Homo sapiens: one gene and its partners. The protein of the gene in region 1 purifies or fractionates together with the protein of each later gene. This does not show direct contact. Each region holds a gene or a part of one and is shown on either strand. Other genes may lie near its edges. The genes, in order: PRCP, PPP1R2, EPB41L5, PRG3, CLGN, STK24 and SGPL1.

What was found.
Region 2: the proteins of PRCP (region 1) and PPP1R2 fractionate together in Homo sapiens (co-fractionation; one large-scale study listed by BioGRID). This does not show direct contact.
Region 3: the proteins of PRCP (region 1) and EPB41L5 purify together in Homo sapiens (co-immunoprecipitation; one large-scale study listed by IntAct). This does not show direct contact.
Region 4: the proteins of PRCP (region 1) and PRG3 purify together in Homo sapiens (co-immunoprecipitation; one large-scale study listed by IntAct). This does not show direct contact.
Region 5: the proteins of PRCP (region 1) and CLGN purify together in Homo sapiens (co-immunoprecipitation; one large-scale study listed by IntAct). This does not show direct contact.
Region 6: the proteins of PRCP (region 1) and STK24 fractionate together in Homo sapiens (co-fractionation; one large-scale study listed by BioGRID). This does not show direct contact.
Region 7: the proteins of PRCP (region 1) and SGPL1 fractionate together in Homo sapiens (co-fractionation; one large-scale study listed by BioGRID). This does not show direct contact.

What each region holds. Positions count from the first base shown.
Region 1 is NC_000011.10:82,893,387-82,897,891, reverse strand, and holds part of PRCP (lysosomal Pro-X carboxypeptidase isoform 1 preproprotein), read left to right. Parts: intron 1-4,505. UniProt on the Homo sapiens protein: Cleaves C-terminal amino acids linked to proline in peptides such as angiotensin II, III and des-Arg9-bradykinin. This cleavage occurs at acidic pH, but enzymatic activity is retained with some substrates at neutral pH.
Region 2 is NC_000003.12:195,513,660-195,517,363, forward strand, and holds the end of PPP1R2 (protein phosphatase inhibitor 2), read right to left. Parts: intron 3,284-3,704; coding exon 3,237-3,283; 3' UTR 769-3,236; downstream 1-768. UniProt on the Homo sapiens protein: Inhibitor of protein-phosphatase 1.
Region 3 is NC_000002.12:120,071,560-120,076,064, forward strand, and holds part of EPB41L5 (band 4.1-like protein 5), read left to right. Parts: intron 1-1,618; coding exon 1,619-1,661; intron 1,662-2,540; coding exon 2,541-2,619; intron 2,620-3,916; coding exon 3,917-3,961; intron 3,962-4,141; coding exon 4,142-4,194; intron 4,195-4,505. UniProt on the Homo sapiens protein: Plays a role in the formation and organization of tight junctions during the establishment of polarity in epithelial cells.
Region 4 is NC_000011.10:57,377,743-57,382,734, reverse strand, and holds the start of PRG3 (proteoglycan 3 precursor), read left to right. Parts: upstream 1-1,584; 5' UTR 1,585-1,621; intron 1,622-1,953; 5' UTR 1,954-2,026; coding exon 2,027-2,087; intron 2,088-2,927; coding exon 2,928-3,241; intron 3,242-3,922; coding exon 3,923-4,054; intron 4,055-4,898; coding exon 4,899-4,992. UniProt on the Homo sapiens protein: Possesses similar cytotoxic and cytostimulatory activities to PRG2/MBP. In vitro, stimulates neutrophil superoxide production and IL8 release, and histamine and leukotriene C4 release from basophils.
Region 5 is NC_000004.12:140,392,749-140,397,253, forward strand, and holds part of CLGN (calmegin precursor), read right to left. Parts: intron 3,458-4,505; coding exon 3,344-3,457; intron 3,222-3,343; coding exon 3,071-3,221; intron 1,294-3,070; coding exon 1,078-1,293; intron 1-1,077. UniProt on the Homo sapiens protein: Functions during spermatogenesis as a chaperone for a range of client proteins that are important for sperm adhesion onto the egg zona pellucida and for subsequent penetration of the zona pellucida.
Region 6 is NC_000013.11:98,454,572-98,459,076, forward strand, and holds part of STK24 (serine/threonine-protein kinase 24 isoform b precursor), read right to left. Parts: intron 2,734-4,505; coding exon 2,597-2,733; intron 606-2,596; exon of another isoform or gene 1-605. UniProt on the Homo sapiens protein: Serine/threonine-protein kinase that acts on both serine and threonine residues and promotes apoptosis in response to stress stimuli and caspase activation.
Region 7 is NC_000010.11:70,870,632-70,875,136, reverse strand, and holds part of SGPL1 (sphingosine-1-phosphate lyase 1), read right to left. Parts: intron 4,090-4,505; coding exon 3,991-4,089; intron 3,301-3,990; coding exon 3,151-3,300; intron 1,787-3,150; coding exon 1,548-1,786; intron 1-1,547. UniProt on the Homo sapiens protein: Cleaves phosphorylated sphingoid bases (PSBs), such as sphingosine-1-phosphate, into fatty aldehydes and phosphoethanolamine. Elevates stress-induced ceramide production and apoptosis.

The DNA of each region.
Region 1 (4,505 bases):
AGTGACCAAGCTGGACCCAGCTGTCCTTCTATGTATATAAAGGATGTGGTTTTATGGAGTGGTCTCTAAGAAGGCTTAGCCCATGGTCTTATCCCTCCCCTGCTTAGAAATTCTTCATAACTCTGATTGCAGGATAAAGGCCAAACACCTTGGCATGGGAATCCATTGTTCCTTACTATGTAACCCTAGCTGGTCGTTCCAACTTTATATTCTGCCATAATTCCCCATCCCAGCTCCCACTTTTAGCAACCTAACAGACTCAAGTGACTTTTACTGTGTCAGAAATTCTGTCTGGAATACCATCCCTCTTCCCCACTATTTAAACTCATAATTCTATTCCAGCAGAAATGTCTCACCTCTTCTGCGAATCTTTGACTTCTTTAAGGAAATTTAGTTGGTCTTTTTTCATCCTGCACATTTACTATATTGTATGTGTCCCTCCAGCTCGTTAGTACTCTACAATACCTAGAAGAGCCTATAAAAAAGTATAAAGCACAAAATAAATAGTTGTTGAAAGAGTGAATGCATGATTATTCAAAAAGAACCTAAACAAAGCAAAGGCTACCATCATTTAATTGTCACAAATCATTTTTTATTTTTCTTTTTATCTTTTACTTTAATTCTTTACTAATTATTTTTTCCTCCTTTTTCAAGGTCTTCAAATATTGAGTTAGGTAGGACTATTTGATTTCTTTTACCTGAAATAACTGAATTAGGAGACCAGAGAGAGGATAGTACATCACTTGGGCACATCGAGGCTCTGGGTACATGTGTAGTATGTGTGGTATCAGTGTCATAAAGGGCTCTCTGGAATATGTGGCTTGTGGTTACAATGTTGCATGCTTATTACCTTGTACCTCCCACCTGAGCCCCTCAGGCTAGAATGTGAGTCCCAAATCACACATTTTAGTGTGTGATGTAGTGAAGAGGGAGAATGGGTCCTGTCAGGCCATCATTTTTCTCAGTGGTAAAATTGGGAGCAATATCTATTGTATTAGGGTGTGTGTCTGTGTGTTTCTCTCTCTATGAGAGAGATTTTTATTAAGGAATTGGCTCATGCAATTGTGGAGGCTTAGTAAGTCCAAAATCTTCAGGGTAGGTTGGAGGCTGGAAACCCAGGGAAGAGTTGCAGTTTGGATGCCCAGGCATTCTGCTGGCAGAATTTCTTCTTGCTTAGGGGAAGTCAGTCTTTTTTTTTTTTTTTTTTTTTTTTGAGTTGGAGTCTCGCTCTGTTGCCCAGGCTGGGGTGCAGTGGTGAGATCTCGGCTCACTGCAACATCTGCCTCCTGGGTTCAAGTGATTCCCCTGCCTTAGCCTCCCGAGTAGCTAGGATTACAGGTGCCCGCCACCACGCCTGGCTAATTTTTGCAGTTTTTAAAATACAGACAGGGTTTTACCATGTTGGCCAGGCTGGTCTTGAATTCCTGACCTCAAGTGATCCACCCACCTTGGCCTCCCAAAGTGAGGGGAAGTCAAACTTTGTTCTATTAAGGCCTTAAACTGATTAGATAAGGCCCACCCAAATTATGGAGGGTAAAGTCCACTGATTTAAAGTCCGCTGATATAAATGTTAATCTCATCCAAAAAATACCTTCACAAAAACATCTAGAATGATATTTGACTAAATAGCCGGGCACCATGGCCTATAAAGTTGGCATATAAAATTAATCATCACATCCACCAAGGTTGTTGTCAGAGTTCAGTGTCGTAACAAATGAAAGCCACATGGATGGTGCATAAAACATGGTAGGAGTTTAAACAACTTGATGGAACAAGTGCTAGTTCCTTCACAACTCTGTCCTGAAAATACACTCTCATCCAAATGCATGACAATAGTGGTAATGCCTCTTCTGAAAACTTAGTACCCAGCTATTCCTATTTAACTGCTGATCATTGTTTCTGTTACAAGTCTGTGTGTTGGCCCAGCATTGAGCTCATGGTCACTGACTTCTGCAGCTCCTTCCTCATTTGCTGTGAGGGGATCACATCAGTGGGCTAAGCTATTTAAATTTATGTACATCCTTTATAGTTCCACTTTCAATTGCTGTTCTAGGTTCCCCTTTCCCACCTTTGTCACAGTGGCCCTGATGTCTAGTAAAATGTTATGTCTAGCTATGTTAGGCACCTTGTAGGGCATGTTGATAAAGATCTTTCTCCTCCTCCTTTAAATTTTTCTTCCCCTTTCTCCTCTTCTTATCTGTTCATCTATTGATGGACTTTCCCTTAGGCCTGGAGTGTCCTGTCAGAAATATTGTGTGAATTCAGAACTGATTTATGTGTTTGGTGACACAGAATCATTTTTAGAAGGGGCCTTAGAGATCATGTAGCCTTCCCCTTAGATATGATGGATTGACCTTGATCTAAATTATAGAGGGTCAGAAACTTGATAGAGCTTGAACAGGAGGGTGGTTAAAAGCACAGCTTTTAGTGCTGGGTGTGGTGGCTCACACCTGTAATCCTAGCATTTTGAGAGGCTAGGAGGATCACTTGAGGGCAGGAGCTAGAGACCAGGTTGGGCAACATAGTGAGACCCTGTCTCTACAAAAAACAAAAAACAACTACAACAAAACCTAAAGCATACCATTTAGAGGCAAACAGGTTTGAGAGCAAGTTCTGTTTCTGCCACTACCTGAGTAAGTTACTCAGAGGCAGCCCCTATTTTCATAATCAGCAAAATGGAGATAATTATATTACCTATACCATAAGTTTGTTGTAAAAAGAGGTGGTATGTGTAAAGTGCATATTTAGCACAGTGCATAACAGTTAGTAAACAATAAATGATAAACATTATTTTTATCTTGCAGTTTCCTAATGTACATGGCTTTAATTAACCCCTTCACTTTTTTAAAATCAATAGGATTAAAATAATCAATACTTTAATAGATTTGTGGCCTAGGAATTAACCTTTTTTCTTGCTTAAAATCATTCTTTTCACACAAGATTCTGTACATAAAAAGAAGCATATGAAACTATTTCTATTTTTCTTTCTATGCTATTTTAAGTGTTGATAAAGTGTTGGGGGGAAATATGGTAATGAATTTACCCTTTTAGGTTTTTGGAAGTACCTTCTTCTCTTGATAACAATAGTAAATCTAACACTGTCTTTCTGATAGCTGAGTTTTAAATTTCTTACTAGCTAATGCTAAAATCTAATTTCAATAAAAATTAACTTTAGGTTTTTCACTGACTTGTTTATATTCCTCTGTCAGCATACTGCAGGAACTTTGTGCTTTAGAGAATTTAGACTTTTAAAACATTTTCAAAGTTTGGGTTCTAGGATCAGCCCTGCCACTAAATCACATCATACTTTTGGGCAAGTTGCCTAACCCTCTAGATCTCATTGTACTAATTTGTAAGATAAATGGATTGGATCTGCTGATCTCTGATTTACCTATAATTTTGTTCACTGAGTGCCTCCTGTTTATAGGGCACTGCGTTAGGAACAGTGGGAATGTGGGTACAAGTTTTGTTTTTTGCCATAACATTAATTGCCTTTGATGAATTGGACCTAAACAACTTTACTATCTTGACTTTGAATAAGACACAGACCCATAACATATAAAGTGTTTTTAAATTAAAAAGTAATCACCTCTTCAATTGGTACAATATTTATAATATTGCATAGTTGATTTATATTATAATATAATAAAACATTGTGTTTATGATTTTAAAGTTTGCTTGGTTGTGGGTCTATTGCAGAAGAAAGGAGAATCATAGGTAAGGAGAATACCTTGATGGTAGATCTTATTTGTCTTCATTTCTAGTGCCTTGGATGGTACTTCTTTTTATTTTTTTATATGGTTCTGACAGGATATGGTACTTCTTAATAAAGATATTATGAATTGAAAAAATTGACCATAAATTAAAATGAATAAGGAGTAAGAGATGAAAGTAAAATTACATATGTAGTGTAAATGTGTCTAATGCATTATTAATGATAGTAATTTACTACCATTTATTGAAAGCTTCAAATACCGTAAATATTATCCTAAGTACTTAATAGACATTCACTTAATTAATCCCTATTACTGTTCTATGAGGTAGATGCTATTATTCCATTTTGTAGGCAAGAGAACTATCCTTTTTGTTTGTTTATTTTTAGACAGGATCTTGCTCTGTCACTCAGGCTGGAGTGAAGCCATGTGATCATAGCTCACTAGAGCCTTGAACCTATGGGCTCAAGTGATCCTCCCACCTCAGCATCCCGGGTAGCTGGGACTACAGGTGTACACCACAATGCCTGGCTAATTTTTTAATCTTTTTGTAGAGATGGGATCTCGTTATGTTGCCCAGGCTGGTCTTGAACTCTTGTCCTCAAGCAATTCTCTTACCTTGGTCTCCCAAAGTGCTAGGATTACAGGCAGGAGCCATCAAACTCGGCGAGCAAGAGAACTATCATATAGAGAGGTTAAATTATTATACTGAGCTATACTACTTATCTGTACCATTTTGTTTTTCTGAAATTAAACTCTGATTAATTTCTAGTGCTGAAATGAATGCCATTA
Region 2 (3,704 bases), on another chromosome or scaffold:
CAGTATGTGCGAGGCTTGTTTATTGCCTCATTTTCACGGAGCATGGTGTGGGATAAGGGTTTCATGGAACACACTGGGCAATCCTGTGTTGGGTACATGTTGGCTTTTATAGGCTGACACGGTCCTTGACTTGTTAAGATGGATTGTATGAAAAAAATCACGTTCTGAGCTTGAAACAGCCTGCTAAGAAACAAACTTGCAAAACACAACCAAATGACATGCATTCATCTCCAGCCACTGGCTATTTGTGCTTTTGAGCGATTTTTCCTAGATGGCACACAAACTGCAAACAAAATTAAGTTATTTCCAATTTTTCAGATTTTAAAAAACCCCAGAAGCTCAAACACCTGAAAAATGCTACTCCTAAAGCATAGTTATGGATCAATAATCCATATACATTTATTTGTAAGGTACAATTTCTAAAATGTTTTCTACATCAAAAAATGTATGAATAAAGACCATGAAATTTAGTTAGGTTTGGATTTAAATCCTATCATTTAGCATGTGTGAGGCACTGAAATGATTAATAAATAAGTTGACCAAGAGCACTTTCCTCACTTACAAAGTGTAGATAAGAATGCTTGCCTTTGTGTGGTGGTTTTGAGGGTTAGATGTAAGGGACTGAGCACAATGCTACTAAGACTGAGGAAACTACTCGGCCACAGCGTAATCCATGATCCACTCCTGGTATCCAGGGCAAGTGGTCGATGGATTATGGTCTTGAGATAGCTAAGTAACAATAAAATAAAATCCACACACAGGCAATTGTCATATTATTGTATTTTATTACAGTACGTGTAGTGTATACTAACTGAAAGGGAAAAATGTAAACAAAACCAAAGTCATGGGGAAAATGGCATCTTGCTTTAATCTTCAACTGAAAGTTACCTTAACAATCCATTTACACCATTATGTCAAATTTTAGTCATCTCTGCAGAATTTTAGACAAATGAAAACAGACAAGGTAACACCAAATAGTTAAGCACAGAAAGTGATACTGATTAAAAAGTTGAAAGTAAAATCTACCTTGGCTAGAACTGAACATTCAGATCTGTCTCTCCAGAGGAAAATCTAACTTGAATCATAATGGTTCATATTTTGACTAGTTCATACCCTATCAATTACCTACTTATGACTTGAACATACCTTTTCTCAGCTGCATGTGACAGCCTAAAACCCCACTGAGCATGCTGCTTGGCATGCCTTACTCCTCTGAAATCATCATCTACTTTCTAAAAACCAGAAAATGAGTTTGTGATTTAAATTTCAAAAAATAGTTTGTAGAAAACACAAAAAGAATCAACTGTTTAAAGTCTTATCCTTTTCTTCACTCTATGACAGCTACTTCTACAAAAAAAAAAAAAGAGTATGTGGGTACTTTCTAAGAACTCAGAAACAAGAAAACCAAAATCAGAGGGTGCATGAATATATGTGCACGCACATGTACAGACTTAATCTCTACATCCCCCAAGACAGATTTAAACAGGTAATCCCAACATTTTAAATTCAGAAACCAGAGACAAACAGTTTTGTTTCTAAATCAGTGGTATTCCTAGCTGAAATGTTTAGAATACTGCACTCACAGTTCAGCAGTACTTTGATTATATATCTCATTCAAAAAATCAAAATAATGGCCACATTCTTCTAACAGCAAGGAATTCTCCCACTTTTTATTTATTTTCAAATACTGCTGTTTCCATAAACCTGCAAGTGGAAGATAAGCTGTTCAATAAAAGCCTTCTTTCATATATGTATCTATATATAAAATATACAGACGTTATTTTAGAAGTCTGTTCATATAACAGATTATTTTGGTACTAACAAAAGTTGTACACAATTCATCAATTGTATGGCTAGAAATGAAACCATAACTAAACCAAGACACACAGGGCTTTCCTGCACTTGGTTGAAGGAAAAAATTCCACCTAATTCTTACTGCGTTAGAAGAATAAAGCACGTTTGTCATAGTACACATTATCGTAGTCCCTTAAAGCAGGGACTATTTAACAATGTCCAGGCTTACTTCTGTCTGTACATTCAGGAATAATCATATCACTGGTTACATACAATTCTCATGCAAAGAAAACCCTCAAAAAACAAACAAAAAAAACCCTCAGTTAGTTGTTTTCTTAAGTCTAATTAATCCAAACTAATAATAGCCATTTAATTAGCAATCTGTAAATCAGAGAGGTATAGAAATTCAGCAGCTAAACTGTATTTCCCACCTATAGCACTGCTGCTACTCAAACTATTTTCTTCACGTATTAGAAGAATTCATAGGCATTGATGGTCAAAATAAGAATTTCAACATAGCAGCAAATGACAGAAGAGTGAGAGAAAGAGCTCCTAATGTGGTGACAGTCTTAATGATCCTTTAAAAGGTAGAAGATTGTGTGCGTATGTGTGGAAAGGAGTAGGAAAGAAAAGCAGGAGGTTAAGACAGGTATTTAAAGGGAATGGCGAGATAGCTACATTAGAATATTTATTTTTTTAAAAAACTGCTCTGAAGTCTGCCCAGTGTACCAAAAACATTAAAAAACAAAAACAAACAAAAACCCCCCAAAAACAAAAAACAGAGCAGACATTGGTGAAAGTTTAACCTGATAATTTATTTGTGGGGAAAAAAGCTAGTTTTGATGAGAAAAAGTTCAGTCCTTTCCTTGTAAACACAAAGAAACTCAACAGGAATTTTAAAAATAGTAGGTCAGAAAATGCAACAGTAACTCTTATAATTCTTTTCAATTAAACAGACAAATCAAGTTGAAGACAAGTGTTAAAATACTATTCAGCCTAAATATTTATCAGTCTATATATCCTGTTGTTCAATTGGCTTTTGATTTTTAAAAAAATCAAATCAATAAACTTTGTAAGAGCTACCACATTTCAAGTGATGAAAATAAATTAGTTCCCCCCCAAAGATATTGTTTAACTTCTAAAGCATAAAAAGCTCTATAATATCTTATACAAATTAACCAGTGTTTTTACAAAAGTAATGCAGTTTTGGACTGATGATATTACACTGTATTTGTGGTAAAGTACTAGGCACAAGAATATATATATCGATTAGGCATTTTCAGTCTAATCAGTCTCTAAGTTTATCATTTAATTCTTGGCAATATATAATAACTGGTATGCATTTTGGTACTTAAGTCATGAATTGTGAAGAACAAGAAGCAACGTACTATAGTCACAGGGTTTACATCTAACAAACAATTGCAGTGTTGAACAAATCTCGTCTATGAACTTCGTAATTTGTTTTGCTGTTGGTCACTTGGAGTAGATCCTGCAAAGATAAAAGAAAAAGTCAACATAATTTGTTATATGTTGTCAACCCTGGCTAAAGTTCCCTTCTATTAGCATGCATGACAAGCAAATATAAAAATTTTAAAAACAAATAAGGTATATTTCATGTAGGCTGATTTAGACTGAAATTGAAGAATCTATACACTCCCCTAAATAGTCTAAAGAACAGAAGTGTCTACTTGCTGATAAAACAAACAGGTTTCAGATTGAACATTTCTGTAAGTCACAGGTGGAAAGGTAAGAGTTTACGACAACTCCAATATCCAGAGCTATAAAAAGATACATATTTATTACCTGAAAGCTATAAAATATCACCTAAGAGTCCAAACATGTCATTTTCTCCAATGAATTGTGTGAATGGGGGAGGAAAGGGGGAAGGGAGGAGACTGGCACTGTCCCAA
Region 3 (4,505 bases), on another chromosome or scaffold:
GGTGCTGCTACTGAAACAGATATATAGACCTATGGAACAGAACAGAGGCGTCAGAATTAACAACACACATCCACAACCATCTTATCTTTGATAAACCTGACAAAAACAAGCAATAGGGAAAGGATTCCCTATTTAATAAATGGTGTTGGGAAAACTGGCTAGCCATATGCAGAAAACTGAACCTGGACCCTTCCTTACACCTTATACAGAAATTAACTCAAGATGGATTAAAGACTTAAACGTGTAAAACCTAAAACCATAAAAACCCTAGAAGAAAACCTAGGCAGTACCATGCAGGACATAGGCATGGGCAAAAACTTCAAACTAAAACACCAAAAGCAGTGGCCACAAAAGCCAGAATTGACAAATGGGATCTAATTAAACTAAAGAGCTTCTGCACAGTAAAAGAAACTATCATCAGAGCGAACAGGCAATGTACAAAATGTACAATGTACAGAAAATTTTTGCAATGTATCCATCTGGCAAAGAGCTAATATCCAGAATGTATAAGAAACTTAAACAAATTTTCCAGAAAAAAACAACCCCATCAAAAAGTGGGTGAAGGATATGAACAGACACTTCTCAAAAGCAGACATTTATATGGCCAGCAAACACATGAAAAAAAGCGCATCATCACTGGTTATTAGAGAAATGCAAATCAAAACCACAATGAGATACCATCTCACACCAGTTAGAATGGCCATTATTAAAAAGTCAGGAAACAACAGGTGCTGGAGAGGATGTGGAGAAATAGGAATGCTTTTTTTGGTGGGGGTGTAAATTGGTTCAACCATTGTGGAAGACAGTGTGGTGATTTCCTCAAAGATCTAGAACCAGAAATATCATTTGACCCAGCAATCCCATTACTGCGTATATACCCAAAGGATTATAAGTCATTCTACTATAAAGACACATGCACACATATGTTTATTGCAGCACTGTTCACAATAGCAAAGACTTGGAACCAACCCAAATGCCCATCAATGATAGACTGGATAAGGAAAATGTAGCACATATACACCATGGAATACTATGCAGCCATAAAATAGGATGAGTTCATGTCCTTTGCAGGGACATAGATGAAGCTGGAAACCATCATTCTTAGCAAACTAACACAGGAACAGAAAACCAAACACTGCATGTTCTTCCTCATAAGTGGGAGTTGAACAATGGTAACACATGGACACAGGGAGGGGAACATCACATACTGGCGCCTGTTGGGAGGGTGAGGGACTAGGGGAGGGATACCATTAGGAGAAATATCTAATGTAGATGATGTGTTGATGGGTGCAGCAAACCACCATGGCATGTGTATACTTACGTAACAAACCTGCACGTTCTGCACATGTATCCCAGAACTTAAAGTATTTAAAAAAAAAAAAAGTCATCTGTCAGGTTTTAGGTCGTTTTTGTTCACGTGTGTCATAAGCTTGCTATGGTGGATATTGGCTAGATACTCTTCCTTCTCACCTCTTTTCTCATTCACTTGGGTTTTTCTCTTGTGAAGTATTTCCTTGCGGTTATCAGTGTAGGCACAATGAAAAGTAACTTTTAGTAATTCATTCAAATTTTAAAGTTCTGTCATCTGCTTAACTAAATTTTTGTTTTTGTTTTTCAGCATTGGTTGGATGGTACAAAAAGCATCAAAAAGCAAGTAAAAAGTAAGTGCAGACAAAATTATTTGTGGGGGGGAAAGGAAATAGAATATATTAGAAATTCTGATTTCTAATAGGATGTAAGAAATCATGTTTCAGATGAGTTTTTTAGCATTTCCATTTTCTAGAAATTATTTTATTCTGATACACTGAGCTACTCCCCAAGTCATGTAGGCTTGATACTAATCTAGATTAAACTGCATTGGGGCTTAACTTTCCAGGAGAAAACCTTGCAGCTTGCAAATGGGATTGACTTTCCCCGAAATGCTTAATGGTTATTTTTTAATTAGTTGTGTTGGAATTTTCCTGTTTGGCATCTGCCCTAATATTGAAAGTATTTTGAGACTTTGTGATATTTTAAAATTAAGAAAAATGAAACAATTCACATAAAATGTTAGTGTCATTCAGAGAGAGAATACCATTGTTTATTCATTATCCAACTTGACTTTTTATCAGACTTATTAGGGCACCTCAACTCTTGTCTCAAAATAATGAGACCACTGAGATTATAGAAGTTAGTGAACTTGCTGAATTGTATTTGTGTGGGAAGATTCACCATGAGCAGTTAATAACATAGGCATTCTTCAGTGTAGCAGGTTTTCAGGGCTGTTAGGTTGCACAGTCAAGACTTTTATTTGATGCATTTGGCTCTGAACTGTTAGAATTAATCTATAGCTGTCTATTCTTGGGATGAGAGTTAATAGTAATATGATGGCTTGGTACATTAAAAAACAATCTAATTGAAGCCTATGATCTAACCTGCAATAATGCCATAAAAACCTCATCTTTTGTCTCACTTCAGTAGATTTTTGACCAGTTTTCTGGCTGAAAAGTATTATTTAAGTAGTTTATTTTATTAAAACCTTTTTTTTTTTTAAATGACAGTTGGTTCACCCTATTGTCTGCATCTTCGAGTTAAGTTTTATTCCTCAGAACCAAATAACCTTCGTGAGGAGCTAACCCGGTAAGAACACCATCTAGAATTGTGCCAGGGTTATTTTGATAGTTTTGAAAGACTGTCTTTATATTGTTTCCAATTTATAGCCAGCTAATAAAATGGATTCCTGTCCCCTGGTAACAAGACCTCAAATAATAGAATTTTATTCTGGGACGTGTTTTTTAAGTGTATGATTCTTTTCCTTTAGCATTTTCAAAATAAAGAGTTGGTTTCTTAGCATCCTCCAAAGGTGACTAGTGAGTTCTTTTTTTTAAGTATCACTCTCAACTCAGGAATGTTAACAGGATTCACATGTTTCAATACATTGCAATATTATATTTATTGATGTTGAAAATAATCTATCTTTGGCCACAGGGAGTTTATTCAAATTGGCGCCCAACTTTCTTTACTCATTGAAATGCCATTGATTAATGAAAAACATTAGATTCTGATTGGTTTGAATAGTTTTGAATAAACCTTATGTTGTATATACTTATTTTAATGTTATCCTGCCTCCTTTGTATTTATTCATGGTCTCTATTATAAATTCATTGCTCCATATACACATACTATTTATTAAATGAAAAAGTTGAGCTTTTGAGTTCCTTTAGAAGGGTTTCCTTTAGAACACCTTGACAATGAGATAGTAGCTATCATCTGTAGTTATATCCATGTCTGTATCCCTTCACATAACAAGTAGATGTCTCGCTCTGTCATCTAGGCTGGAGTGCAATGGCATGTTCTCAGTTCACCGCAACCTCTGTTCCCCCAGGTTCAAGCAGTTCTCATGCCTCAGCCTCCCAAATAGCTGGGATTACAGGCACGTGCTCACACCCCCAGCCAATTTGCGTATTTTAATAGAGACGGGGTTTCGCCATGTTGGCCAGGCTGGTCTTGAACTCCTGGCCTCAAGTGATCCACCCGCCTCGCCCTCCCAAAGTGCTAGGATTATAGGTGTGAGCCACTGCACCAGGCCTTTAATTAAGAATACTTCTAAGATCTAGTGTTAGATCAGTAGGGTGATTATAGTTTACAATTACGTATTTTACATTTCAGAATAGCTAGAAGAAAATAATTCAAATATTTCTAGCATAAAGAAGAGAAAAATATTTAAGGTGATGGATACCCCACGTATACTGACTTGATCCTTACAAATTATATGAATGTATTCAATTATTTCATGTATCCCCAAACTATGCACATCTTTTATACATTAATACAAGTAATTTTTAATGAAATAATACTTCTCAAGTTAGAAGTGTAAGATTTTTTTTCACAGTCGATTGTGCTGTTGGGTTAAATTTGTGCCTTTCATTTTTCTTAGGTATTTATTTGTTCTTCAGTTAAAACAAGATATTCTCAGTGGAAAGTGAGTATTAGTTATTTAAGGATAAATGCACATTTTCGTGAGTGGTTGAAAAATTATTTTGAAAATAAGTTTATAGTTGTAAAAAAGAAATGGTCAACATAAAACATGTATTATTTTCATTTGTCTTAAAATGAAGGTTATGAAATCAACTTGTCTAACAAACTTGTGTTTTGGTCTCAGATTAGACTGTCCCTTTGATACAGCAGTGCAATTGGCAGCTTATAATCTGCAAGGTAAGCAATTCTTATGTTGACTGTTAAGACTCAAGTATAATCTTTTTTGTGTGTGTTTTTAGTTAAAGAAGATTCTAATTATGTGCAAGAAAAGAAACAACACTGTTTTTGTATAAACTTGTATCAGGGTCCAACTCTGACTTTTACTTGTTTTAGAACATTGCCTTCTTTTTCTTCTCTTTCATGTAATTGCGCCCTTTCCACCTAAAGTGTTGAAACGTCATACTCTACCTGATAAGTCTGTAAATGCTAAGATTGGGCCTTCGGCTAACTTTTTCCTTAAAAGAAATGCAGTTATGTAGGAGTGAATT
Region 4 (4,992 bases), about 26 Mb from region 1:
AATTTCTTAGTGTGTCTGAGTTGAGAGCCTCCCCTGCCTGATTCTAGTCCAGACCCTGGGGTGACAGAAGACTGGTGGGAGATGGGAGGTGAGGAGGGGAGTGTTGGTTGGAGAGGATGATCTACAGAGTGCTGGAGAGACTCTGTATGGAGCTTTTCATGCTGCCTGTTTGCCAGCCCTGAAGCTATGCCTTGAGGTTGGGCAAGGTGGCATATCCTAGATCAGAGATCCTCAACTGGGGCCATTTTTCTCCCCAGAGGACATTTGGAAACATGTGGAGACATTTTTGATCATCTGCGGGGGTGGGGAGAGGGGCTACTGACATCTGGTGAGTAGAGACCAGAGGGACCATTAAACTTTCTACAACGCCCAGGACAGCCCCTCCACAATAAAGAGTTATTTGACCTCACATATTAATAGCACAAAGTTGAGGAACCTTGATCTAGATCCACAGCACAGAAGAAAGGATGTAGATTTTTCACACATTAAAGATGAGAAAGCTTGTGCCTGTAATCCCTGTGACTCAGGAGGCTGTGGCAGGAGGATTACTTGAGCCCAGGAATTCAGGGTTACAGTGAACTATCATCGCAGCACTGCACTCCAGCCTGGGTGACAGAGCAAGATTTTGTCTCTTAAAAAAAAAAAAGATGAGGACAGGCACAGTGGCTCATGCCTGTAATCCCAGCATTTTGGGAGGCCGAAGTGGGTGGATCACGAGGTCAGGAGTTCAAGACCAGCCTGGCCAGCATAGTGAAACCCCATCTCTACTAAAAATACAAAAAATTAGCCAGCTACTTGGGAGGCTGAGGCAGGAGAAGCGCTTGAACCCGGGAGGTGGAGCTTGCAGTGAGCCAAAATCTTGCCATTGCACTCCAGCCTGGGCGACAGAGCAAGACTCCGTCTCAAAAAGAAAAAAAAAAAAGATGAGAAAGAGGAAGGGAGAGAAAAAAGAGAGAGAGGAAAGAAAGAGAGAAGGTTTTGGAGTCAAAAAGACTTAGAAATTCCAGTTCTTCCACTTCCCATGGAACCTTGGCAAGTTGCCTTCTCTCTTTCTCTGAATCTCACATTTTGCCTCTGTGAAGTAGGGGTGGTACCTGGTGGAGATGATGCGGAGATGAGGGTGAGGGGTGTGTTGCACACTATGCCCCTAGGATGGGTGAGAGCTTGGGAGCACTGAACCTCCCTTTCCCCTCTTGTTTCTTCCCCCCATTGTCTCCCACCAGCTCCCTGGGATCTCCACTTCACTCTCTGGGATTCCACCAGCAGGAGGCTACTCCTGGAGTTAAGGCGTGTTGTTCAGACTGGGGCATTTTAGGGGGCATAAATAATAATTATGCCTGGACAATGGACATAACATCTAGGGCCTTCTGAAGCAAACCAGGGTGTGGGGTACCCAAACAAGGCAGTAGGCCCCAGGAGGCAGGTCCCTGCAGTCCCAGCAGAGAGCAGGGCACAGGGTTGAGAAGACTGAGCAAACTTCATTATCAGCTCCTTTGTCCCCCACTCTGTCCTGGAGCAATCATTCTGGCCTCTTCCCACTTCCCCAAAAACCCAGTATAAAGGCTGCTTCTGGCCCCTGAAGCCAGAGGCACTGAGAGTGGAGGTCTCAGACTCTTGGAAGGTGAGTTCTTTTCTGGCTGCCCAGGCAGGACCAGTGTAGGCCCTGGGAAGAAGCAGCACCTCATAGGGCAAACACGTAGGAGGCCTGTCCTTAGGAACATCATAGCTAAGCAGACCTGTCCCCGCAGGGGCAGGAGTCTGGGCTAAGGGTGATACTGGAGAGCAGCAACGGAGACTGGAAGACAAATGAAATTTGGTACCTGAGTTATCCCTCCCACCATTCCTTTTCTAGACTCTCCAGCTCAGGGTCTGTTCATGGCAAGAGGAGAAAGCAATCTTGTTTGCTCTTTAATCAAACAATTAAACAAATATTCCCTCTATACTATGTGCCAGGGGCTATACTAGACACACAAAGACAGCCCCAAGAAGGACGGTGGAGTAGTGTCCTCGCTAAAAGACAGTAGATATGCAATGCCTCTTGCTCCTGCCCTTTCTCCTGCTGGGAACAGTTTCTGCTCTTCATCTGGGTAAGTCTCTCCCTTCCCTCCTCATGCGTCTTTCCCTTTTTTCCTTTTTCCTACACTCCCCTCCCCCCGCTTTTATTTGCACTCATGAGGCCAGGACCACAGCCTTCCCTCTTTAGCTGATACAGCTCATCTCCGGTAAGATATCACTTGGACTCAGAACTGTAACCTGGAACTTTCTCTTTTTTGTTTGATTTTTTTTTGTTGTTGTTGTTTTTGTTTTTTTTTTTGTTTGTTTTTTGTTTTGTTTTGAGACGGAGTCTCGCTCTGTTGCCCAGGCTGGAGTGCAGTGGCGCGATCTCGGCTCACCACAAACTCCGCCTCCCGGGTTCAAGCAATTCTTCTGCCTCAGCCTCCTGAGTAGCTGGGACTACAGGCACATGCCACCACGCCTGGCTAATCTTTGTATTTTTAGTAGAGATGGGGTTTCACCATATTTGCCAGGCTGGTCTCAAACTCCTAACCTTGTGATTCGCCCGCCCCGGCCTCCCAAAGTGCTGGGATTACAGGCGTGAGCCACCGCACCCGGCAAACTGTAACCTGAACTTTCAGAAGGAAAAACCACCCACCTGTTAAGATGAAGGGCTGGTGACTGCCCCAGGCTTCTCACACGTGCTTTCTCCCACCTTCAAAACACACACTCGTGGTGTCGGCCAGAAGTCAGGTTCTTGTCCATTTGTGGGTGTGACCCGAGAGATCTCTCCTTACCTAACACCAAGGAAATCCTCCAGTCTTGTCTTCAGGTGGAATTCCTAGGAAAGCTCGAGCGACGTTGCTGGAGCTGTCCACGGTGCTGGAACTAGGAAGCTCTTGACCTGATGGCAGGTTACCTCTTCTTCCCAGAGAATGATGCCCCCCATCTGGAGAGCCTAGAGACACAGGCAGACCTAGGCCAGGATCTGGATAGTTCAAAGGAGCAGGAGAGAGACTTGGCTCTGACGGAGGAGGTGATTCAGGCAGAGGGAGAGGAGGTCAAGGCTTCTGCCTGTCAAGACAACTTTGAGGATGAGGAAGCCATGGAGTCGGACCCAGCTGCCTTAGACAAGGACTTCCAGTGCCCCAGGGAAGAAGACATTGTTGAAGTGCAGGGAAGTCCAAGGTGCAAGATCTGCCGCTACCTATTGGTGCGGACTCCTAAAACTTTTGCAGAAGCTCAGGTAAGTAGTAGGGAGGCTACTGCGGAGGACCTGGGGGAAAAGAGAGTACATTCAGTCTTCTGTTCCCTATTCATTTAGGCTAGTGGTTCTCAAAGCCTCGCATGCATCAGAATCACCTGGAGTTGTTGTTAAAACACAGCTTTCTGGGCCTCACCTGCACGACTTCTGATTTAGGAGGGCTGAGGTGAAGCCTGAGAATTTGCATTTACAACAAATCCCCAGGTGATGATGATATTGTTGGTCTGGGGAGAACCACCGATTTAAACAAAAGGCTTTGGTGTTAGAAACGCCTGTGTTAAATTCTGGTTCTGCCTTTTATTAGCTGTGTTACCTGGGCAAGTTGCTTTGCCTTTCAAAGCTTTAGCACCTTCATTTGTAAAACGAAGATATATAGCACCAACTTCTTAGAGTTGTGGTGAGCATTAAATGAGATAATACATGAAAAGTGTTTGGAATAGTCACTGGGCTGTAATAAACTCTCAATAAGCGGTGGTTATAATTATTATGAGTATTATCATTTCCTGTAGGATTGTCCTGACAGCTAATTAAGAAGCAAAAGATAGGATTAAGGGAGGCAAGTAGGTTTATTTTTAACCTGAAAAGGGATGCCGGGCTCTTGCCTGGAGACTCAGAAACTTGAAATAAATGAGAGGGAATTCTCTACTTTGTTTCCGTCTGCAGAATGTCTGCAGCAGATGCTACGGAGGCAACCTTGTCTCTATCCATGACTTCAACTTCAACTATCGCATTCAGTGCTGCACTAGCACAGTCAACCAAGCCCAGGTCTGGATTGGAGGCAACCTCAGGGGCTGGGTAAGTCAGGGGCCAAATCTTGGGTGCAGTAAGTTCTTTCTGAATGTGTTAAAGTAGCATCTGATGGTGCCAAGCCTCAGGCCAGCAGCTAAGGTTTCCTTAATGTGGCAGGCAATGATGTGCTGGAGATGGCTTGTACTGGCTCAGGAGAACTGATGGTGCACATCTCTTACCAACTCCATGCTCAGTGACTACATGCTTGCAGCTTGACATCAGCCATGGTGGGAGTATTTACACAAAGGAAATAGGCAATTGCTACACATCAGGGCTCCTTTCTACTCCCCATCCTCCCACCCACCCCAAGAGCTGGTATAAACATTTACCAGCATACCACTGGAGTCATGAGACAGAGTCCAGGCCCAGCTTAGTCACTTAGAAAGCTAGTTAAATAGGTTTCTTGGAGCCTCTGTTTTTTTTCAATCCCTGAAATGGGGACCTTCTTCTCTCAGGGTGGTTCTGGAATTGTGGGTGAATAAGTGGCATTATATTTGGTACGGTCCATAGATCAGCAGTATGGTCCATAGATCAGCAGTACCACCATCCCCTGGGAGCTTGTTAGAACTGCAGAATCTTGGACCCCACCACAGACCTCTTGAATCAGAACCTCCATTTTAACAAGATCCCCAGGAGATAACGTACGCACAGTAAAGTTTGAGAAGCCTGCTCTGTGTGATGGCTGAGAGAGATGGTTGCTCTTCCTGTCATTGCCTGGAAACTCTTAGGAATGGCTCTCTAGGGTGTCTGGCTCCTGGCCAGGTAGGCAGTGAGAGAAGTCAACAGGGGGTATTCCATGAGGTCCTGGATCTGAACTTCTGCCCTCTGACCTAGCCTGTCACTTCTCTAGTTCCTGTGGAAGCGGTTTTGCTGGACTGATGGGAGCCACTGGAATTTTGCTTACTGGTCCCCAGGGCAACCTGGGAATGGGCAAGGCTCCTGTG
Region 5 (4,505 bases), on another chromosome or scaffold:
TTACAAACCTTTACTGGGTAACACAAGATACAAAAAAACTTATTTACTCAGGCATTTTACATTAAGGAGTGATGAACTCGTAAGTAAAAGAAGTTTCATTTTCCCACCTTATACTTTGTAAAGTCTAATTTAATTATTAGCATGCATCACTGAGTGAGACTTGATAGCAGAAGGTATGTTATGACAAAAGTGGAAACTTCTAACATACTGGCAAGAAAAATGGTAATTTTCCTTTTTGGTAAATTTCAGAATAGAACTACCTTTTATGGATGTATTACCTGGTTTATTTGAAGTGATCATTCATTCTGTACTCTGATCATTCATTCTGTACTTTTAAAGAACTTACTAAAAATCATACCTCAGAATTGTTTTCTTTTTTATATAAACACATTTCACACATAAGACCCTCAGTAAGGATATTATTTCTCTTATTAAAATAAAATTTAAAAAATCAAATGTTTTAGTTACAAGAGGTTCAAAACAAGAATCCCTCTTCACCTACTCTTTTGATGGTTTTTCGCTAGTGACCCAAGGAACCAAATGTAAGGTAAGAATTTTTCTTTATAGCAACTGAATTTAATGATACATTTTCTAAGATGCATTGTGTTGAAATATTTAGCCCAACCTTTTCTAAACAGTGTTAAGGTTTCGGGAAAAAACTGGAACAGAATTTAATAATGTTAAACTATAAATTCTTTGTACATTCCTCTAAGTAAAAAATAGTTAAATAAACAGTAATATTTAGATTATCATTGTCACTTAGGTCTTGAACTGGCAAGATGACAAAGATATTAAGTAGTCTTCTTCTATGAACAGTAAATAAGCATTAAATCCCATTAGTGATGTTATAATTTAATGAATAAAATGAGGACTTACATATGCATATATAGCTCATAATGAAGTAACATAAAAAGCAAAATATTCTGTCTACATAAACTTATTCAAACACATTTCCTTGGCATTTAGTAGTTACTGCACATTTATTTGCATTTAAAAGAGCCATCTGAATAACCTACAACCAAGACCAAGTATTATTATTCATAGTTATATCACTACTGCTATTGGTCAACACCATACCTTATTAGCATTTGCTATCATTATTTTCCATCTCCAACCATCTGCAGCCCAGTGATCTGCTACTTCCTTTTCCGAACAGATAATAAAATTATCAAAGTAGATATCAGAGGTCATAGACCAAAGCTCTAAACCAAGAGCACTGAAAGAAGTCAGAAGAAATGGATGATCATCTTCGAAATAATCTGGATTAGGAATTTTTCGAGGACTCCAGATTCCCTGGAAGAAAAGTAATTGAAGACATTTTCAAATAAAATAACTTCATTATAAATGCTGCTTAATAAGTAGCTGCTGTTGAATGAAATTCGCAATGCTAACTGGAAAAAAGAGAATTTTAACTGATATTAATTCATTAGTAATATACTGGATATAAAATCTTGTTTCTTTTGCTGTGTACACAATGTTCCCTACGAGTGATACTAACTTTAAATTCTGCAAGAAAAGGAAAAGGGAAAATCCAACATAAACAGAAACGTGAATAAATTTCACAATTTGTCTACTTTGGACAAATTTTTAGATTTAGTAAAGTTATTCATTGCAAAATGTTATTCAAGTTGTCCAAATCAGAAAGATCATTGTATAGCAAAAATGGAGTTACTCCATTTAACATATACCCATGACAGATATCATTAATCAGGTATGGTTGAATCTCGGCACAACTACTCAACCTAAAACTTCCATTAGATCTTAAATGATTAAACTGTCCATTAAATCAAATACATTCAACAATATCATTGCTCACTGACTCACTCCACCATCACATGTATGTATTCTGGGCCAGGCACTATGCCAGATGATGGAGACATACATGGTTCCTGTATTATGGAGTTTAAAGTCAAATAAAAGAGACAGACATCAAACAAAAAAATTTACCAAAAGAAACATTTTGTGTTAAATGCTTTTAATAAAAACTACAGTGAGTAATTAGAATATGAAACTGCATATATATAATGTTAGAACGTATCCATAAATAATTACAAAGATAAAACTAGAGGGTTAAGTGGATAACATAGAAACTTTTAATATAAAAAGCTAGGTACACTCAAAAGATGTCGATTGATATCAGAAAAAAATCAGGGCTGGGTTCGGTGGCTTACTTCTGTAACCTGAGCACTTTGGGAGGCCAAGGTGGGCGGATCACGGTCAGGAGTTCGAGACCAGCCTGACCAACATGTGAAACCCCGTCTCCGCTAAAAATACAAAAGTTAGCCGGGCGTGCTGGGGTGTGCCTGTAATCTCAGCTACGTAGGAGGGTGAATCAGGAGAATCGCCTGAGCCCAGGAGGCAGAGGCTGCAGTGAGCCAAGATCACGCCAGGCCAGGTTTTTTGTTTTTTTGTTTTTTTGTTTTGAGTCTTGCTGTGTCGCCAGGCGGGAGTGCAGTGGCACGATCTCAGCTCACTGCGATCTCCACCTCCAGGGTCCAAGAGATTCCCCTGCCTCAGCCTCCTGAGTAGCTGGGACTACAGGCGTGCGCCACCACATCTGGCTAATTTTTTGTATTTTTAGTGGAGACAGGGTTTCACCATGTTGACCAGGGTGGTCTCCATCTCCTGACCTCGTGATCCGCCCGCCTTGGACTCCCAAAGTGCTGGGATTACAGGCATGAGCCACCGTACCTGGCCAAAAATCAGAATTTTAATAATACTAAATAATAAGTACATTAATTAAGCACAGGCATTAATTACTAAAATGTACAATATGAGTCTATTTGATCAAAATTCACTTCTTATATTTACTTCTAAAATAGAACTTTATTTCAAAGTGAGCATCAACTGATAATTAGGGAAGAATATAGTATGAAGTGATTTATTTCCCCAGAAAATTAAATAATTGATGCTCTACTTTTAAAATATAAATTAGTTGAGGTCTATTTTCTTTGACATCTTAAAATTAAAAATGAAACTTCCAAAAGTTGACATAGGTAATTAGATATTTAAATAGAAAAGATCACAACATTTTTAACTTCACTAAATAATTGGAACAAGCGGTTGTTACCTGATAGTTAGGATTATCGACCAGTGGAGGTCTCCATACTCCTTTGTATTTTGGGTTATCTATCATGGGAGGTTTCCACTCACCACACCCAATCCGACATGCTGGATTAAGAATCTGAGGTGCCTCCCATTCTCCATCCGTGTCTTCATTCCTTAGGATATTAAAACAAAGCAAATACAGTAACCTCAAGTCTCAGATCAGTCATATAAACTAGTAACAAAAATGCATGTAAGAAACATTTGAAATCGACATTTGAAGATGAAGAGTGCTTACCAGTCATCAGGTTTTTCAGCATTAGGATCAGGGATAAATTTTGGTTCATCATCAAGCCAGCCAGCAGGTTTAACAACACTTGAATCTTCTATTTGGGCAGGTTCACTTTCATCCCTGTAAATACAACGTTTTATATTACTAATTATTCAGAAAGTTTAAAAATGCATGTTACAACACTAAGAAGGTACCATAAAATTATTTCCCTCCCTTTTGTTTGTGCCTGTTATTTGTCCTCATCTACTACCCACCTAAATCTTTTGCTAACTTGCCAATTTTTGGTACATATTCCCTGTTGTGCTCTATGCATACATGCACACACGTATACATTCTTTTTTTTAATACGAATGATAGCATTCTATACATAATGTATTAGACCTTGCTTTTGTTACTTAAAAACTCAGTCATTCATCAACAAATATATATTGCATGCTTACTATGTGTCAAGACTGTTCGAGGAGCTCCATTATTATTATTTTTTTCTTGAGGTGGAGTCTTGTTCTTGTTTCCCAGGCTGGAGTGCAATAGTGCGACCTCAGCTCACTGCAACCTCTGCCTTCCGGGTTCAAGCAATTCTCCTGCCTCAGCCTCCAGAGTAGCTGGGATTACAGGCACCTGCCACCACGCCTGGCTAAGTTTTTGTATTTTTAGTAGAGATGGGGTTTCACTATGTTGGCCAGGTTGGTCTTGAACTCCTAACGTCAGGTGATCCACCCACCTCAGCCCCCCAAAGTGCTGGGATTACAGGCATGAGCCACCATGCCTGGCTGGAGCATATATATATACATATATATATATATATGTATATATATATATATGTATATATATATATATACACATATATATATATACACATAGCTTCATTCTTAACAGTTGCATAGTTTTCTACTTGAGGATACACCATAATTTATTTAGCTTATCTCCTCTTGGAGGACATTTAGTGTTTCCAAAATTTTACTATTATTAATACAAACAATGCCATAGTGAATGTCCTAGAATATATGCCATTTCTCATCTGTGAAAATATAATTGTTAAGAGTATGGACATTTTAAATTTTGATAGTAGCATCCAAATTACTCTCTATAATGGTTACACTCCACTTCCGGTTCTACCAGCAGCATGCAAAAGTACCTATTTTCTCCTGTCCTTGCGAAGAGTGTTACC
Region 6 (4,505 bases), on another chromosome or scaffold:
GTTGATGTCACACAAAAGAATCCAAACATTAATTCCAGCTGAGACAGAAAGGCTCTGAAAATGCTTCAGAGGAGAGGCGGCTCTCATTTTTCCTACAGCCATCCACTGAAACAACATGTTTGGAGCAAAACTGGCAGGAAGTCTAAGCCATGGCCACCGTGGTTTTGGCAGCCATCGGGGTGAACGCTCAGTGGGAGCTTCAGGAGCAGGGAAGGAAGAAGTGGGTACCACAGCCAAGCCTGCAGAGAGATGATAAGCACCTCAAGAGGCAGCTCATCTGAGGACAGAGGAGGAAAGAGGGCACTCCTCATCACAGACAAAGGAAAGAGAGCACCAACTTGGCTTCCCCCATGCATCACTGCAAAGTAAAGTTTTAAACACAACACAGACATCAGGTAGCTACAGACCCGCCCGAGGGTAAATAGGGTCAACCCCAGCCACGATGCCCAGTGAGCACGTAAAATGTGCTGCGTCTGAATGGAGATGTGCTAAGTGTAAAACACACACCAACTCCAAAGACGGTCCCTCCAAAAATGTAAAATACCTTATTGATGATTGTTGTTATTAATGTTGAAATAATACTTTGGATCTGGCAGGTTAAAAAATGTATTGTTGAAACTAATTTCACTTCTTTTTGCTTTTTAAAAATATGGCTACTAGAAAATGTAAAATTCTCTTTTTGTTTGGTTTTTAGAGACAGGTTCTCACTCTGTTGCCCAGCCTGGAGTGCAAACGTGATCACAGCCATAGCCGCGAACTCCTCAGCTCGAACAATTCTGCAGCCTCAGCCTCCCAAGTAGCTAGGGCCACAGGTACAAGCCACCATGCCTAGCTAAATTTTTTTTTTTTGGTAGAGACAGGGTCTTGCTATTTTGCCCAGGCTGGTCTCAAACTCTTGGCCTCAAGCGATCCTCCTGCCTGGGCCTCCCAAAGCATTGGGATTACAGGCATGAGCCACCACATCCAGCAGAAAACATAAAATTCTGTGTGTGGCCCACGCTGTACTTCTACTGGCCAGCACTGGTACAGATCAACTTGCCTTAACAACTAAAAGAAGAGGAACAGAGAGATAGGGGCCTGGGAATGGGAAACGTGGATCAGTTCAACACATACAAGCCACACACTCTGTGCCCTGGAGCTGCCCTGGGGAAATCAAGTCACGTATATAAACAAACAGTTCATAACAATTTCAGGCAATTCTGGACAGTGTGGAAAGTATTGGTTTTAAAAGTAATACTACAAAAGCAGAGAGCAAAATGCCCAACAAGACAGTAACAATCCTACCCGTTTCTGGTTTTGTTCTATTTGTTTTATTATAAAGCTCTTTCTAATGGGAAATAAATGCCTCTAGAATGAGGTATGTGATGCTAAGTTTGAGAAATCAAAAAGTTTGTGTTCAGGCAAAAGATGGGTGACTTTTTAATTCTATTTTCCTTTATTCCTATATTGTTTTTAGTATCAAAGGAGGGAGGGATCGTCCTTCAATTGCCTCAAAATTGAAGGCAGCCAAGTAGATCATTTTTATTTTCTAGCAACTTAAAAAGTTGAAATGTCTTACTAAGAAACCCGAGTTCAGAAGCATAAACGTGAAGTATCAGAACTGTGGTTTTCTCCTGCTGTCCCCACGTAGAGGGGCTCTTCACAGGACAGTAGGCAGCCCCTTCAATCACTTCCAAATAGCAAAAGGGACCTCACGTGTGCAAAACTTCTTTATGTACTGTCAGGTGGGACGCAGTCTCAGGAAAGACCCAGAAATCCCCCTCATGATCACAGAGTCTCAGCCAGCTTTGGGAGGTGTCAGCCTGGACACCTGAAGATGAACTGTCAAGGCAGCAGCACGCCTGGTCCTCCTGGGGGTGTGGAGGACAGCCCAGTGACAAATCACCCTCAGGTCACACAGAGCGGCTTCCCAGCACACATCCACTGCCTCCAAACGCCTGCACTTGTGCCAGATGGCAGTCAGGAGGGGCTTGGTTCCCATGGATACTCCTACAACAAGTTGGGAGGGGGCAGGGAGGGCAAAACTGTCACCCCACTGAGTCCTCACCCATAGTGCATTCAACAGGTGGGGCCACTGGGCAGGGACAAAAGCTCCCTACAGGCTGGCACAGATGAACCCCTACCAAGGAGGCTTCCAGACATGACACACACAGCTAACACAGGGAACACACCTGCGCCCGCTCCCGCTGAGTTGACCACACCAAAGCTGCTGTCATTTCTCACACTTGACTTTAAAGCCGAAAACCAGATAGATAGTTACACACATCTGGCTAAGAACGATCATTCTCTGGCCAATAATTAAGCTGCATAATTAAGAGGAAACAGGTATTTCACCACCACCCTGTATTTATGTGGCAAAAGCTACAAATGCACTAAGTCCTGTGGGCTTTCCAGTAGTTTCCAGATTCAGATCCTTCATTCACATTGATTTCTAGAATTCAGAACAAAGTCTCCTCTAATTCAACTCTGTCTACCCTGAGGCCTGCAAGATAACAGGAACAGACAGGCCAAGAATCAAGTACCAAACTCATCAACTAAGTCCCAGCCCAAGTGCAGGTCTCTCCTTCCCCAGCCCAGAGGGGCCCTGGGTAGTTACCTCTGGAGCCGCTGCACGAGCTGGGCCACCATGGTGTCGGAGATGCCAGGGCACGCCTCCTCCGCTAGGTAGATGGCCCCTCGCAGCTCTTCAATGGACCCCAAGTTCCCTCCGCACGCCTGGCTCTTCTCCTTCAACTGAAAACACACGAACAGGAAGAATGGCATGAAGCACACCAGCTGCAAAACTGGGAAGCATGCTGTTCAAGGAACAACACGGCGTGTGGACCACGACACTACCCCAGCCCCAGGGTGTCCGGGAAAAGCTTTGGCTAGGGCTCCAGGCCACTTCAAATTGCTTTTTTTTTTTTTTTTTTTTGTGAGACGGAGTCTGGCTTTGTTGCTCAGGCTGGAGTACAGTGGCGTGATCTCAGCTCACTGCAACCTCCGCCTCCTGGGTTCCAGCGATTCTCCTGCCTCAGCCTCCCGAGTAGCTGGGATTACAGGCCCCTGCCTCCATGCCCAGCTAGTTTTTGTATTTTTAATAGAGACAGGATTTCACCATGTTGGCCAGGCTGGTCTTGAACTCCTGACCTCAAGTGATCCGCCCGCCTCGGCCTCTCAAAGTGTTGGGATTACAGGCGTGAGCCACTGTGCCCGGCCCGGGTTCCTTTTGAAGAAAGGTGATTCAAATGCTCTGAGAGCAGTTATGTATACACAGGGCAATCATCAGACCATAATCATTACTGTTCGAGGCCAGAACAGAGACGACTAGCTCTCTGTGTGCCTTTCCCAAGTCTCACCGTGATGGACTGTCCTCTCTGTGCTGTTTTCCTATTTCAACCATAACCTTGTACCAGAAAAGCAATTTCAAAGCCTATCCTAAGTTATTCTGATCTCAACACTGCTTACTTCCTAATGTTAATGGGTTGGTTCTTAAACTCCAGCAAACTGCCTTTGTGATCCAGAGTAGAGTCAAAATATTTGATTTCATGTAAATAAGTGGCAGCCTTAAATTCTGGGAATCTCCAGTGTTCTTCCTGGCACCTCTACTCCCAAGAGAAATCACAACAGTGCCTTCAGACACTTCCCTCAGTTGAAGGTCAACTCCAAGTCTCTCTCTGGAGGCCCAAAAACGTGAACTGTGAAAATAAGAGCTGTTCAAGTCAAGATACAGCATGGCTCAGAACTCAACAGAAGAGGCTCTTTGTGATGGACACCGCCTCCTCTTCAGGGAAGAAAGAAACATCTCAGGCGACATTCAGCTTGGTTTTCAGGTTGTTGAACACATGCTGTCATTTCCAAACCCAGCCCTGCCCTAAGAGCAACGGCTTCTCTCTTCGCTACTGAAGGGGCAGGCAGGAACTAGAAGGGTCTGACCTTGGAGGGCCAGTGGGTGTAGAGAGCATTTGTTCCTGAAGTTCTTGCTGTCACAGGGCCACGCCGCCGGCCCCGAGGCGGCCACTCGTGTTTGTCTAGGACTCCCAATCACTTGACAGTATTTACAAGTCCCGAGAGGGTCAGCTACAATCCAGCACTCTCCCTCCTGCCCATGCCCCGCCCCTAAGTCTCAAAGAAGGAGCAAAGGCGGCAGAAGGGCCGCCCTGGGAGAGGGCCTGTCCCCTTGCCGTGTGGAACGTGCTGGACCCATCACTGACTTCAGGGAGCAACCTGACCTGTGCTCCCTGAAGGAAAGCAGGGACGCCAACACCCGTCTCCTCAATGTCCTCATCTGTAAGCATGGGGATATAATCCTTCTACTGGGCTTCTACAAGTATTGTATGAAATAATACACAATAAACACTCTGAACTCTAGGGTAGCAAATATCATTCTTAAAAATACATTGGGAAAGATGCCTGTGAGTTTAGCAATTGGTTACCTGGAAAATCCAGGATATGACGGCGTTTAGGATATGTCCTGAATAATTATGTCAAAGTTGCTTCATGGGCCCAGTAAAAAAATAAACAGC
Region 7 (4,505 bases), on another chromosome or scaffold:
AACCTGTCTACCCAACTCCCAATTATATTCCCCTAGATGCTTCTGAGGCATGAAAGATGTACTAAAAAAATTTCTGGAAAAGTAATCTGCCCATCTCCACAGTTCTAAAAAGTCATATGTAATCCCTAAAGCAAGAAATGGTATAGCAGGTCTTAATAAATGGCCCTATCAGAGCTATAGGAGGACCTTTTATATATATCTAATTTTTATTTATTTGTTTGCTTATTTATTTGAGACAGGGTCTTGCTCTGTCACCCAGGCTAGAGTGCAGTGGTGTGATCATAGCTCACTGTAACCTCAAATTCCTGGGCTGTTCAAGCAGTCCTCTTGCCTTAAGCCTCCTGTGTAGCTGGGACCAAAGGTGCACACCACCACATGTGGCTAATTTTTATTTTTATTTATTTTTTATTTTTGAGATGGAGTTTCGTTCTTGTTGCCCAGGCTTGAGTGCAATGGTGCCATCTCAACTCACCGCAACCTCTGCCTCCCGGGTTCAAGCAATTCTCCTGCCTCAGCCTCCTGAGTAGCTGGGATTACAGGCATGCGCCACCACGCCCGGCTAATTTTGTATTTTTAGTAGAGACGGGGTTCTCCCTGTTGGTCAGGCTGGTCTTGAACTCTGGACCTCAGGTGATCCACCCGCCTCAGCCTCCCAAAGTGCTGGGATTACAGGGATGAGTCACCGCGCCCGGCCTCATGGCTAATTTTTAAATTTGTTGTAGAGATAATGTCTCACTATGTTGCTCCGGTTGGTCTTTAATTCCTGAGCTGAAGCGATCCTTTTGCCTTGGCCTCCCAAAGTGCTGGGATTACAGGCCGGAGCCACCGTGCCTGGCCAAGGATCTTTCTCAAATGAGAAATGCCTGCAGGCAGCTTTCCTTCCCCCTCAATATACTTAAAGAGCCTCCCCAATCCAAGTGACACATAGAGAGATGGGCAGATAAGATGTTAACAGATACATTAGACAAAGCATGCAGCCTGTTCTGGCCTTGGCTTAACCCAAGATTTCATTGCCCTCCTTTCCTCATTCCTTCTGGCCCATTTCCAATTATTTTCTTATTCCAATGATTCTTCAAGTATGATTCCTGGAGCAGTAGCATCAGTATCTCCAGAAATGGAAATTTTTAGAGCCCATCCCAGTTCCACTGAATCAGAAACTCTAGGGGTGGGCCCAGCTACCTGTGTTTTAACAAGTCCTTCAGGTGATTAGAATGCATGCTCAAGTTTGGGAATCACTGTCCTAACCATTAAATTGTACATTAGCCTTAGGGTAAGAGCTGCCAGTTATTAAGACATCCATAGAGATGAGATAAACTACAAATGAGGCCCCCGTCTCAAAGACCCTCCAAAAGTCAGGGCAGAGAAAGGGAGCTTCTTCTCCCAGGCCAGCTGGTCTGGCCTAAGCCCTAAGCTGCTGCCCTAAGCCCTCTATATCGCAGGAGACAACAGGTGGGCTAGGGCTATGGATACTTAGCCAGGCAGGTGCCTTGAGCCTACTAGGACAAAAAAGCAATAGACAAGGCAGAACCCCAGTCTTCCACACATACTCTGACTTGAGGAAGCGAGCAGTTTTGATGATCTGTTTGGTAGCTTCAACATAGCCGTTCTCACCGAAGTGCATCAAGGCAGCCCAACAGGCTGCGCTAATGCCACCAGGCCGTGAGCCTGCGATGGTTGGGGAAGCATAGATGCCACCCTGCCAATCTGTATCGACGAAGAACTGATAGTTCCTGTACTTCTTGTCACTATACAACACCAATGATGAGCCTTTTGGGGCATAGCCATACTGTGGAAGAAGTAGCAGACAAGAAAAGTGAGAGTATAGTTCTGTCTGGCAGACCTTGTCCCAGAACTCTCATCATGCAAAGGAAATCCTATTTATTTCTCAGTTTCTCTGTTATGTTTCCCACTCACATTAAGGATTCAAACTTAAAATGCTAAAGGATAGTAGGAACTTAAGGGATGGAGTTTAAATTCTCTCTGTTAGGAATGAGGAATCTGAGACCCAGGGAAGAACAGCGCCCAGTTAATCGGTTTACTCCCTCTCTTGCCCAGCATGTGGTTTACCTTATTTAAAATATTTCTCTGGAGACCATATGTCAGGATGAAAGCAAGGGTAAGTTTGCAATGGAAGCCAGGAAAGGATGGAATTTGTCACTTCAAGTTAAAATCACCATCTGACCCCCTTCCCATCTTTTTTTGCTTAGTATTACTAAGAATATTATGCTTATGAGAACATAATGGTGCTCAGAAACTAAAAGCTACTTAATCCAGCTTTAAAATTAACTATGTAACTGGTTTCCTTATAGAACATCTGACCCCCTAATTAACTCTTATTAAAACTAACGTGGAACTAATTTCATTACCTGAACCATCCAGAAATGGATGGTTATGGGAAAAGGACACAGGAGCTATCTGGATGGTAAGGAAAAAACAGATGCTGACTGAAAATCGGCTGCAGATCACACCGATTTTGAAAAACAAGTCTTTAATATACTTGAGTTTAAAACAAGCTCTGAAAATGCAATCAAAACAAGGTACACATTCCTGAGGCTGCTAATACTTCTTCCACATCTGGATGTATATTCAATAGCGTTATCAACTGATCTAGACTTTGTCTCAGTCCACCAAGGGTGGCAGGCGTGGCCATCTCAAATGCTGAATGTTCCTGAGCACACAGGTTCTTCCCATTTTCCAAAGGACTCTTCCGTCAACATTTTCCCGTCATGTACGCTCAGGAGCCCAGTTGCACAGCAGCTCTAATGTTATCTACCAGCATGGGAACTCCACTACCAACCCTCACACTCCTCTACCCTCCACCTCAAATCAGCTCAAGGCTTCAGGGAGCTTTTTTAACAAGGGCCACTACACTAGCATGTTCTAGTTACACACAGTCAGTGGATACAGAAATTCTCTTAGCCAATTTGAGATAAAGGTAACAGGTTCATTTTCACTACTGCTTGTCACCTCTACCACTATACCCCATCACCTGAACCAGCTGATCTGGTGACGGCAAAGAGAGAGTTTAAAACAAGCATCTGATGAGAATTCTATAGTTAATTTTATACTTTGCGGGGAAGCTACCAATTTATTTTATCAATAATAGTCAAAATAATCAACTGGTAACACTTGATCTCCTCCTTAGCTCACCTTATGGGTGTCAGCTGAAATGCTGGTTACACCTTTCACCCGGAAATCAAATGGGTGCTCCAGTGGGTATCCTGCTTTCTCCATAAAGACGATGAGGAAGCCTCCCAGACAAGCGTCGACATGAAGGGGTATTTTGTATTTGACAGCCAGCTTGTTCCAAAAAACAAAGAACATAAGAGAATTTCCTTTATAGCCCTATAATAAAAACTGCAAGACATGGGTGGAAAGATGGGCTATAAACACAAGGCTATTTTGTATTATGCCTCCCATGTTTTTAAAAAATGGCTATTTTTAACATTCCCAACAAAATTTATCTTTCAAATGTATTTTCCCTTCAAAATAATTCATCTGAAATATGGTATCAATTTTATATTTAAATATGCATGACCTCAAACGCTCTGCGGTATCAAGCAGGAAATGAGTAGAGCTCTGATTTAGGCTGCCTCTCGCACAAGGGAAAGGTCCTGCCTCAGTCACTGCAGGATGAGGCGTGAGGGAAAGGGAGGCGCTGAGGGGCAGCATGTGGAATATCACCCTTTTGGTGGGCACATTCCTACATGCAGATTATTTCCAGATCTCAATCTAGAAGGCAATCCTATTTCAGAATTTCCAGTTTAAAAGGCCTCAGCCTTGTACTATCTTCCCCCACAGCAGAGACTAGCAACTTTTAAAGGCTTGCAACTGAGCTGCAGGGCTTCCCCTAGGGCTGATGAGAGCTACTTATCACTACTGTGGTCAAAAACAAAAAAAAAATCGCTTCTATTTGCCAAGTACTGCCCCATTAGGCTTTGTTTTAAAATATCCATTTGCCTGCCTTAGCAGCCCATTTCTCTCATATACCTTGGCCACTTCAGGGACAGGATCTATTACACCATGAGGAAACTGTGGGGTAGAACAGACGAGCATGGCAGTGTTCCTGGAGATAGCTCTTCTCATTGCCTAGGGATTTAAAGTTTAAAGGAAAATGAGAATCTATGTCACAATTACTCTTCTCTTCTGCTGCCAAGAGCAATTTGGGCTGCTAGCTTAGAGTTCCAGTTCCACCAGTACCCCCTCCTTCACCACTCCAACTGGGAGAAGACTGCATCCCACCACGGTGACAGGACACAGGTGACTCCAGGTAAGTCCATTTGGAGAATAGTCTGAGAGCACAAAATAAGAACAGAATCGCTGTGGGGGCGAAAATAATATTGAGCTAAGAGGCCAAAGAGCCAAATGTGAGCCCCAGCCCCACAACGTACCAGCAGTGAAACCCTGAGTATGCTACTTCAGTCTGTTCCTTATCTGTGAACTACAATAATATAACAGCTTCATCAACCTCTCTGGAATGTCATAAAGCTCAAATGGGATTCTGA